2 linked regions of the Homo sapiens genome follow. The protein of the gene in region 1 purifies or fractionates together with the protein of each later gene. This does not show direct contact. Each region holds a gene or a part of one and is shown on either strand. Other genes may lie near its edges.

Region 1 (5,355 bases):
ACCCAGGCTGGAGTGCAGTGGCGCGATCTCGGCTCACTGCAACCTCCGCCTCCCAGGTTCAAGTGATTCTTTAGCCTCAGCCTCCTGAGTAGCTGAGATTACAGGCACCCACCACGCACGGCTAATTTTTGTATTTTTGGTAGAGACGGGGTTTCACCATGTTGGCCAGACTGGTCTCGAACTCCTGACCTCAAGTGATCTGCCCACCTCAGCCTCCCAAAGTGCCGGGAATACAGGCGTGAGCCACTGCGCCCAGCCTCATGTTCTTGCTTATTTGTGGGAGGTAAAAATTAAAACACTTGAACTCATGGAGATAGAGATTAGAAGGATGGTTACCAGAGGCTGGGAAGGGTAAATGAGGGGTGGCGAGGAAGTGGGATGGTTAATGGGTACAAAAATATAGTTAGAAAGAACAAATAAGACTCAGTATTTGCTAGCACAACAGGGTGACTATAGTCAATAATAATTTAATTATACATTTAAAAATAACTAAAAGGATAATTGAATTGTTTGTAACACAAAGGATAAATGCTTGAAGGGATGGATACTCCATTTACCCTGATGTGATTATTACATGTTGCATACCTATATCAAAGTATCTCATGTACCCCATGGCACCTGTAAAAATTAAATTAATTACTTTTTAAAAACCCAGGTTGTTGAAGGGTCAGTTGTAATTCTTTTCATCCTCAAAACGATTCTATGAGATAGCCAATATTATTCCCCCCATTTTGAAAAATCAATGCCCTTATTAATGTTGTTAAAGTGAAAGTTCAGAAGGTAATGGGGAGAGAACCAGACATTTCTGTTTTGCACTTAAAAGGTTAAGTTTAATAGGGACAAAGAAGTCAGTCAAAGAATGCATGTAAAGAAATATGCAACTTATGCCAGGCACAGTGGCTCACCCCTGTAATCCCAGCACTTTGGGAGGCTGAGGTGAGCAGATCACTTGAGGTCAGGAGTTCGAAACCAGCCTGACCAACATGGTGAAACCCTATCTCTACTAAAAATACAAAAAAATTAGCCGGGTGTGGTGGCACGCACCTGTGATCTCAGCTACTTGGGAGGCTGAGGCAGGAGAATCCCTTGAACCCAGGAGGTGGAGGTTGTAGTGAGCTGAGACAGCACCACTGCACTCCCGCCTGGGTGACAGAGTGAGACTCCATCTCAAAAACAAAGAAAAAAAAAAAAGAAATATGCAACTTAAGATATCTATCAGACCATTAAACTGCTGAAAATAAGTCTTAATTTTCCATTCAATCAGTATCCAGATTGAAAATTAATGTTTTTCTCTTTTCCCATCTCATTCATTTTCTACTTATATTTCATTTTTAAATATTTATAATACATATTATGTTACTATGGAAATAAACTGCATTAAACTTATATTCCTAACCAGTGTAAATTAGGATTTATATCAAGCTTCACCAGCAAATAGCAACACATAACCCATTTTCAAATATTTGGTTTAATTTAGGAGAAGCAAAGAAACATATTGCACAGATAAACACGAGGTCACTTTACTCCTTTGAACTTGTTTCATTCCTTAAGAATTTCTAAAATAGCTACATACAAAGACAGGAGTAAAAGCAAGTTTTACCCACTAAAAAGTAAAAAAAACAGCCTGGCACGGTGGCTCACGCCTGTAATCCCTGCAATTTGGGAGGCCGAGGTAGGCAGATCACCTGAGGTCAGGAGTTCAAGACCAGCCTGGACAACATGATGAAACCCCGTCTCTACTAAAAATACAAAAATTAGCCGGGCGTGGTGGCAGGCGTCTGTAATCCCAGCTACTTGGGAGGCTTAGGCAGGAGAATCGCTTGAACCTGGGAGGTGGAGGTTGCAGTGAACCAAGATGGAGCCACTGCACTCCAGTCTGGGCAACAGAGCGAAACTCTGTCTCAAAAAAAAAAAAAAAAAAAAAAAAAGGAAAAAAACCATTTTTACCATACTTTCTTGCTAGTGGATAAGCTGACCTTAGGGAAGCCATGCCACAGGGGTGAAAGGGAGAGAGGGAAAAGAAGCAAGAGTTGGAGGACTAATAACTAGGATTACAAGATGGTATTATGGGCTTTGTGCACTGAAACAGGGAAAGGGGAGCTGGAAAATAATCCAGTAATCTGGGGCCAAATCTTGGCTCTGACATTCACCAACTCTGGAGATTGGGTAAATTGCTAAATTTCTCCCCTTTTTAGTTTCTGACCTTATAAAGTTGTTGTAAGATAAAATGAGACCACAAATGTAAAGTACCTGTTAGTACTAAGTGAATAATAAGTTAAGCCTCTCTTGGGGGAAAAAATGTCTGCTTGTAGCTGGGTCAAAGAAAAAAATACCACCTGTGGGGTAGTGGTGATTTGATCTTTTGAGTTCTGTGGCTAATCCTTGGATAATTAAAAGGTTGAATTCTGTATTATGCTTGTGCTATTAAGCATGCATGTGCACATGAGTGCACACCCACCCACCCACATACACCCTCCCAACCACATACACAAACACAAACACACAAACACAGAGACGTGCATGCGTGCACATGGGCACAAAATATAAACCAGTGAGGTACAATGTGTCCCTGAACTCAGATCACTAAGAACAAAACAATAGCATGAAGGCCATTTTATCTGTCAAAAAAACTCATCTGAGGGTTAAAAAAATAATAACTACAGTTATTATGAAGCTGAAAATTAATTTTTATGTGTAGCATTCCACTTTCAGATCCCTGGAAGAAAGAAGCTAGACTCAAGGTATAAGAGTATGCAGTATTTCTAGAAATTATTAATTAATTAAAATAGCTAATAAGCCAAAAAAAGTGCTTCTTAGTTTTGTTTTTTTTTTGAAGAAATCATTCCTAGAAATAAAAACTTAATATTACACGTGACCTCACTTAGAATTACTGAAACATAGGTATTTTCACAAAGAAAAATAAAATTTACTTTTTTAAATGAACAGCTGTCAGTTTGGAAAGTCTTCTTACCTGTTTGATTTGATGAAGGCGGCTGATGGAACCATGAAAGGGAGGAGGTGGCAACAACTGAAATTTAAAATATAGAAGTCAAGCTTGCTTTAATGTTTGTGATTAATTACATCTCAACATTAAGTCAATGTTGAATTACCTAAAATATTTATTTAGTGTCTTATGCATGCCAGCAACAGTATCAGTTAGGTTCAAAGTTAAAAAAAGATCCAACTGGATCTTGACTGAAAATTATACTAATCAAAAATCAACACTTTCCAAAACAGAACAAAATAACTGTTATCATAATAAATACAGAGCAGAACATCAATAGAGGATTTTGTTTGTCTCTACCTTTTCTTTCCTAAGGCACTAGATCTTAAAATTGCCTCATTTTTCTTGCCAGTTTTAGCCCATCATTAAAGCTTAGGTAGAGGTATTACCCAGAACAAAAAGCTGAAACAGTCATTGAATCAGTAGCTAGCTTGCCAAGCATACTGCCCAAAAATCATAAACAGAATAACTACATCAAATATCCTGGAATCTAGCTGGGAAACCAAACTTTCATAATATGAAATGACTCTAAGGTAATCACTTTCAAGTCATTTAGCACATTTTACTCTTGGTTGCTAAGATACTTCTTGTCTAGGTCCTTTCTCTTTTTCGGGGCTACTTTTTCCTTTTCAGTCTTTTCTCAAAGCTTATGAGGACCCACACAAGAGGGGAATGAAAGAATGGAGGGATTTAAAGCTAAGTGTGAAAATGAGGCTTGAAAATTACCTTCAGAATTCATCTGTAAACTCTTTCTGTACCGTGGTTATTTCTTAAAATGCCAGATAATGTGTTTACCATATCTTAGTTTCAAATTCTATCTTAAGAGCACATTGAGTTGTACATTCAAAATATTGAATGAGGCCGGGCGCGGTAGCTCATGCCTGTATTCCCAGCACTTTGGGAGGCCAAGGCAGGCAGATCACTTGAGGCCAGGAGTTCAAGACCAGCCTGGCCAACATGGTGAAACCCCATCTCTACTAAAAATACAAAAATTAGCCATGCGTGGTGGCATGTGCCTCTGATCCCAGCTACTTGGGATTTTTAAGAAAAATAAAAGACCTGGAGGCCAGGCACGGGAGGCTCATGCCTATTATTCCGGCACTTTGAGAGGATCACTTGAGGCCAGGAGTTCAAGACCAGCCTAAGCAAGATGGCAAACACCCACCTTTACAAATATACATATATATATATATATATATATAGAGAGAGAGAGAGAGAGAGAGAGAGAGAGAGAGAGAGCACTGAGCTAGACTCTGAAGATCGAAAGATAAATAAGACATTTTCCTGTCCTTGAGCAAGTCAAAGTCTAAGTCTAGTTAGCAGAAACTAGGTCACAGCCAAATGGCAGAACAGAGTTACGATTTGGGTTCAAAGGACAGAGTTCAAAGGACAGAGAACTCTGTGTGGGTCTTGAGGAAGTCTTCATAGAGGAGTAGCAACTCATTAGATAGAGAAGAGGAGGGAGGACATTTCAAGGAGTGAGAGGAAACACTCAGGCAGAGAGGAATGTTCAGGGAACAGAAAGGTTCAGGGTGGCTGAAACTTAGTACCTGCGAGGGTACAACAGGAAACAAATTTAGGGAAATTAGGCTAAAACCAGATTGTAGTTTTTGGACTTTAGCCTTTGAGCACAATAGGAAACCCAGAGCATAGATTCCTCTGAGTTCTTAAACCTCAAAGCTGTTTAAACAAGATCATATCTGCTTTAAAAAGGTAACCCTAGCAACATCATGCAGAACACATTGATGGTGGATGGAAGAGGGACTAGACGCAGGGTCACAGGCCAGGTCACAGATGGTGAGGGTCTAAATGAAAAAGGGAGAGTGAAGAGAAGGAGGTAGATTGGAGAAATGACCAGAAGGTTGAAAAAGAGGTTGCTAAGGTTCCCAGTAGAAACCAATAGATGGAGTGTGGCCATGAAAGGCAGTAAGAGGAGTGAGTTAGTGAGTGGAGGGAAGATGAGTGTTCAAAAAGTATGTGTTGGGCCATGTGTGGTGGCTCATGCCTGTAATCCCAGCACTTCGGGAGGGGGAGGCGGAGGCGGGTGGATCACTTGAGGTCAGGAGTTTGAGACCAGCCTGGCCAACATAGTGAAACCCTGTCTCTCCTAAAAATACAAAAATTAGCCAGGCATGGTGGCGGGTGCCTGTAACCCCAGCTACTCAGGAGGCTGAGGCAGAAGAATCACTTGAACCTGGGAGGCAGAGCTTACAGTGAGCTGAGATCGTGCCACTGCACTCCAGCCTGGGGAACAGAGCAAGACACCATCTCCAAATAAATAAATAAATAAATACATACATAAAATAAAGTATGTGTTGGATAAATAAATGTTTCTATGAAGCAGATAGTCT
Region 2 (4,858 bases), on another chromosome or scaffold:
ATGGCATAAGGATGGCTCAATGTCACACAGCTCATTAGTTATCCAATTAGTCCAAGCCCAGGGTCTCCTGAAACCCAATCTCCTCTTCCTGGCAGCCCTGTCTCTGAACCTAGATCCTGGGTAATTGGAGATGATTTTCCAGTGTTAGTATTTGGACAGCAGCTCTGAATTTCAGTTTCGAGTATGTGTGGGTTTATCTTTCCCCATCCTGCTTTCTCGGGATCCTTTGTTTTAGCTCATGAAAAAGAAGAGACACAGCAGCTTCCTCTATGGGTGGATGATTCAGGACTGAGGGCTCGGGTTGGAGGTGGGAGGCAGGGAGTATCCCAGGGACTCACCGACGTTCTTCCTGTGCCGGGCTCTGGCCACCCCCACAGCCACGGCTCCCACTGCCAGCACCAGGCCCAGGGGCACCAGGGTGGAGACCAGCGCTCTGGAGCTTCCACCTTGTTCCTCAGAGCTGGAAGAAGGCTTAAGTTAGTTCATCCCTGGAAGGGAGATCTGGGGGCCCGACGATGTGCTGGCAAGGTTGGCTTAGTCCTTTTTCCTCCCAGGTTTATCCACCCCACCCTGCTGATGCAGCTCCCTAGCTCTGTTCTTCTAAGAAGCCTTCCCAGACTGGCAAAGGCACGCACTGGGCCTTGTTGCATCCTAGGCCTGGAAGATTGAACTGAATTGTAAACACCTCCCCAGCCATGGGAGAAGGGCAGAGGGTACCATAGGACCCTCCCACATATAAGCAGAGGTAGTAAGGGCTGCCCCAGTGCTCAAGAGACAGATGGGCTTTCCTCCTTGGACCTGGTGGCCCAGCCTCAGGTGCTCGGCTCTGGGGTGTTCTCCGAGTGGGGAGCCTTGAATCCTTCCTTACCTGCCGGAATCCACAGATGCTCTGCTCCCATCGGCTTGATCTCTTGTATCTGCCACCGCCTTTTCCTCTGCAAAAAGCCTGGGATCCTGAATGGCTTTGTTCTCAATCTCCCGAAAACCAGAGTCTAGCACCTTCTCATCAGGAGCAGCGTCTGCCTTCGCTAGGCTGACATCGCGGGACCCTGCAGCAGGGAAGAGTGGGCCTGGGTTGTGATTTTTCTCTATGCTCTTACTCCTCGAGGTGAAGGAGTCTGGGGGAGACTTCATGAGGAATCACAGGGTCAGGGTTCGATCTCAAGGCTGTTGGGGTAGGACCCAGGATGACATTAGAAACAGCTGTGATGGCCTTCTTCAGCTGTCACAGATGATCTCTGCCCCATTACTACCAAAAGTATAGTGGGGACCTTCAAGGCTTCGTGTCATAGACCAGCTGTGCATAAAGGCTGACCCATCACTTATGCCCGGGAGATTTTCAAGGCTCTGAGACGCTGCCCCAGGCTTCCTGACTGCCCAGCTGGGTATGATAGTGCTGCCCCCTGGAGGTAGCCTGGCGATGGGCCCCTCAGTGAGTCCCATCCGCAGGGTCCAGACCCAATAGGATTTCTTGAGGGACTACAAATACCCTTATTAGGGCTAAAACATTTCATGTGAAATTTTAAAAGGGGACTTGAAATGCAAATTTACTAGATGTTTCCTAATTTTCCTGATCAGACCTTGTAAATGAAGGTATCTGGCCCTCTTTCGAGGGCGAGCTTTGGCAGGGGGAAGGGGGATGAACATATTGCATATGACAGTGATGTATGCATATTATTCTTCTATACAGAGAAGAATATTTCCAGATATAGAAGAGACTTCAATCTGGGTTGAAGTGGCAACTATGGGACTTGTCTTTTTTTTTTTTTTGAAATGGAATCTAGCTCTGTTGCCTAGGCTAGAGTGTGGTGGCACGATCTCAGTTCACTGCAACCCCTGCCTCTTGGGTTCAAGCAATTCTCATGCCTCAGCCACCCAAATAGCTGGGATTACACCACCATGCCCAGCTAATTTTTGTATTTTTAGTAGAGACGAGTTTTCTCCATGTCAGCCAGGCTGGTGTTGAACTCCTGGCCTCAAGTGATCTGCCTACCTCGGCCTCCCAAAGTGCTGGGATTACAGGTGTGAGCCACCACATTCAGCTGGGAGTTGTCTTAATGCCGAGGTTAAATAGCAAACCCACTATTTTTACTTAGTTGGTATGTTTATTTGAGATGTCCCTTTTGAAGGGCTCAACGAGGCTATATAGGACCTAAATGTCCCCTCCCTTCCCACTCTCCACTTTCAGCCTCTTACAGCCAAACATAGGGGCCAGCACTGATTGAGAAGCTCTCAGGCAGGGGCCTTCAGGAAGTCCTGCCTCTGGGTCTGAGGGGTGCAGGCCCTGTCCTTGGAGACTCACCCGCTGCCTTCCTCTCTTCAACTGCCACATAGACGGCTGCAGTCTCTCCATAGAAGTGGCCCTGCTTCACTCCACACCAGTACCAGCCCTCATCAGCCCTGGTCACCAGGTTCAGGGTCAGGGAGACAAGCCGGCTGTTCTCGTCACAGTTCACGAAGGCCTTGCTGGGGCCTTCGTCTTGGCTGGGCAGGGCCTGGCAGCCCGTGTTATTCCACTTGCACCAGTATTTCTCGTACGAGGAGAATTTGCATGGAAAGTGACAGGGGACCTTGAGAGTCTCTCCCAGCACAGCCGTGACATTCCCTGGTACCTTGAGGTTTGGTTCTCCTGGAGGAGGGAGGGAGGTAGAAATAAACACAGAAGTTGGTACTTGGAGATGCTGCAGGGAAGTGACTCTGGTGGGAATCTTTGTCCACATGTCATATACATATATATATATATTTTTGTTTTTGTTTTTGAGACAAGGTCTCTCTCTGTCACCCAGGCTGGAGGGTAGTGGTGCGATCATAGCTCACTGCAGCCTCCATCTCCTGGGCTCAAGCAATCTTCCTGTCTTGGCCTCCCAAGGTGCTGAGATTACAGGCATGCACCACCATGTTCAGTCTACATATCCTCTTTGGATAGCATTAGAAATAAGTATGTTATTCTGACTACAGAAGAAATGTAATTGTGTGCCTAGGTAATAATTATTATTGATGAGCACCATGATCAATCCAGAGTCTACCATAGACCATAGATCTTCACACATGGACTTCAGTTTGCTTTCCTCACTCTTCCTTCTCTTCTAGACTCAATACAAAGAGGTATCTGCAATCCTTGACTTCAGCTGATGCCTGCACACTGCGAAAGAAGCCCATGTTCTTGGTAGTAGGAGGTACCATGTATGGTAATTCAGAGTGTAAGGTGCGTGTTATAGGCATGAAAATGTGACCTCTGGATAGGTGGGCTCCCTCCTGAGGTCTGGCCCATCAGGGTGGAGGCGGGTGAAAAAGGAGGAAGAGTGGTTGGGGATGCTGCTGCTGGCTGGAGAGGTTTTAGAGCTTTCTCCCTCCCTGTCAACTCCTACCTTCGATAATCTTGATCTCCACGGTGGTCCTCCAGAGAGTATCGCCGTTGGTCAGACACCAGTAGAAGCCGGCGTCCCGGCTGGTGAGCTGGTTGAGGATGACAGTGAAGGTGCCGTTGCCTGGCTCCTCCAGCAGGGAGAGGCGGCCCTCGTACTGGGCCTTAACCCACCCCTCGCTGTCCACCAGCAGGGGGCAGCGGCCATTCTGGGCCCCTTCCCAGAGACACCAGTACTTGATGCTTTTGCTTTCCTTACGGTTGTAGGGGCAGAGCACGGCCACAGAGCCTCCTGCCACCCCCTTCACCACAGTGGGGCTGCGGGGAATCGTGGACTCTGGAAGCACAGACAGAGATGGGATGGGAGGATGGCCACGCAGGAAGAGCCTTGCGTGGCCTGAGAAGCCTTCTTCCCGGGGTCTCAGCCAGGATGGGGAGTGAAGTTTACACGCATCACCTTACCCTCTTCAGAAAATGAAAAGGAGCTTTCCTAATGTCACAGAGCCTGCAGCTGGAGCCATCAGGGCCAGACTCCAAGGGCTTGGAGTCTCCCCATCAGCCTGCACATGTTGTTCTTTTCCCCCATCTTATTCTGAGCAGAGAATGGAAGGAGTTGAAGGAGAGGATATCAGCTCTTCTTTGGCTTCTTACAAAGTCTCCCTCTGTGTAGGTTTTTGTCTATTTAGTACACTAACAAGTGTATTCCACAAAAGTGGCCCAATGGATTATGCCCAAATCAAGAAAATATATTTAGGATGGTATGATGTAAACTATAAAGTATGTAGCAAAGGTGAGCTTAATTGTTGGGGCCCCAAGGGGCATCTCAAAGACGATAGCCATTCTCCAGGCAGCTAAAGCTGAGATCCAGAGAGAAGCAGGTGACCAAAGATGCAGGGGATTCTGGTGAAAACCCAGAGCTGGATGTGGACATGGCATGCAGAGAATATAAGCCCCTTTAAAAAAAAAAAGTCACAAGCACAGATACTTGGAACTGCAAGTACTGGTTTGCTGCTTCTCACGAGGGCAACTCTATGCAGGGTGCTCTGGGATGAGAAGGAGCTGGGATTTAATTCTTTCACCATGCTGATGGCTCACTGGAGTAGGGCTGAGTGGGCCAGATGGTGCTGAAATTCACAAATAACCCTACGAAATGTGACAGTGAAACATTTAGAGGCTGGGGCACTCCTGGGAACGCATTGAGACCAAGATAAGCCAATCCTTTTTCCATCTGAATGTGAGGGATGAGGCACCCATCTTGTTCAGGGGCCAGGGGAGGGGACAGAGGACCCCTGCAGAGCCTGCCACAGCCCTGAAACACAGTCTATAAGTCCTGCCTCAATCAAGAGCTTTACTCACCTCTTGCTTGTTAAGCAGGGACAGCCATCAAAATGACTTTGATAACAGAAGAGTAATTAGGAGCTGCCATCAGGCAGAGGTTGCTTTTTCTTGCTGTCCTGTGCAGCAGCCCACGCAGCCTCCAGTTCGGGGCTGGTC

Evidence for each region. Proteins that work in one complex are often made in the same cells at the same time.
Region 2: the proteins of PABIR3 (region 1) and PIGR purify together in Homo sapiens (affinity purification with mass spectrometry; one large-scale study listed by BioGRID and IntAct). This does not show direct contact.

What each region holds. Positions count from the first base shown.
Region 1 is NC_000023.11:134,826,899-134,832,253, reverse strand, and holds part of PABIR3 (PABIR family member 1), read right to left. Parts: intron 3,029-5,355; coding exon 2,972-3,028; intron 1-2,971.
Region 2 is NC_000001.11:206,932,118-206,936,975, forward strand, and holds part of PIGR (polymeric immunoglobulin receptor precursor), read right to left. Parts: intron 3,702-4,858; coding exon 3,369-3,701; intron 2,630-3,368; coding exon 2,303-2,629; intron 1,050-2,302; coding exon 869-1,049; intron 461-868; coding exon 339-460; intron 1-338.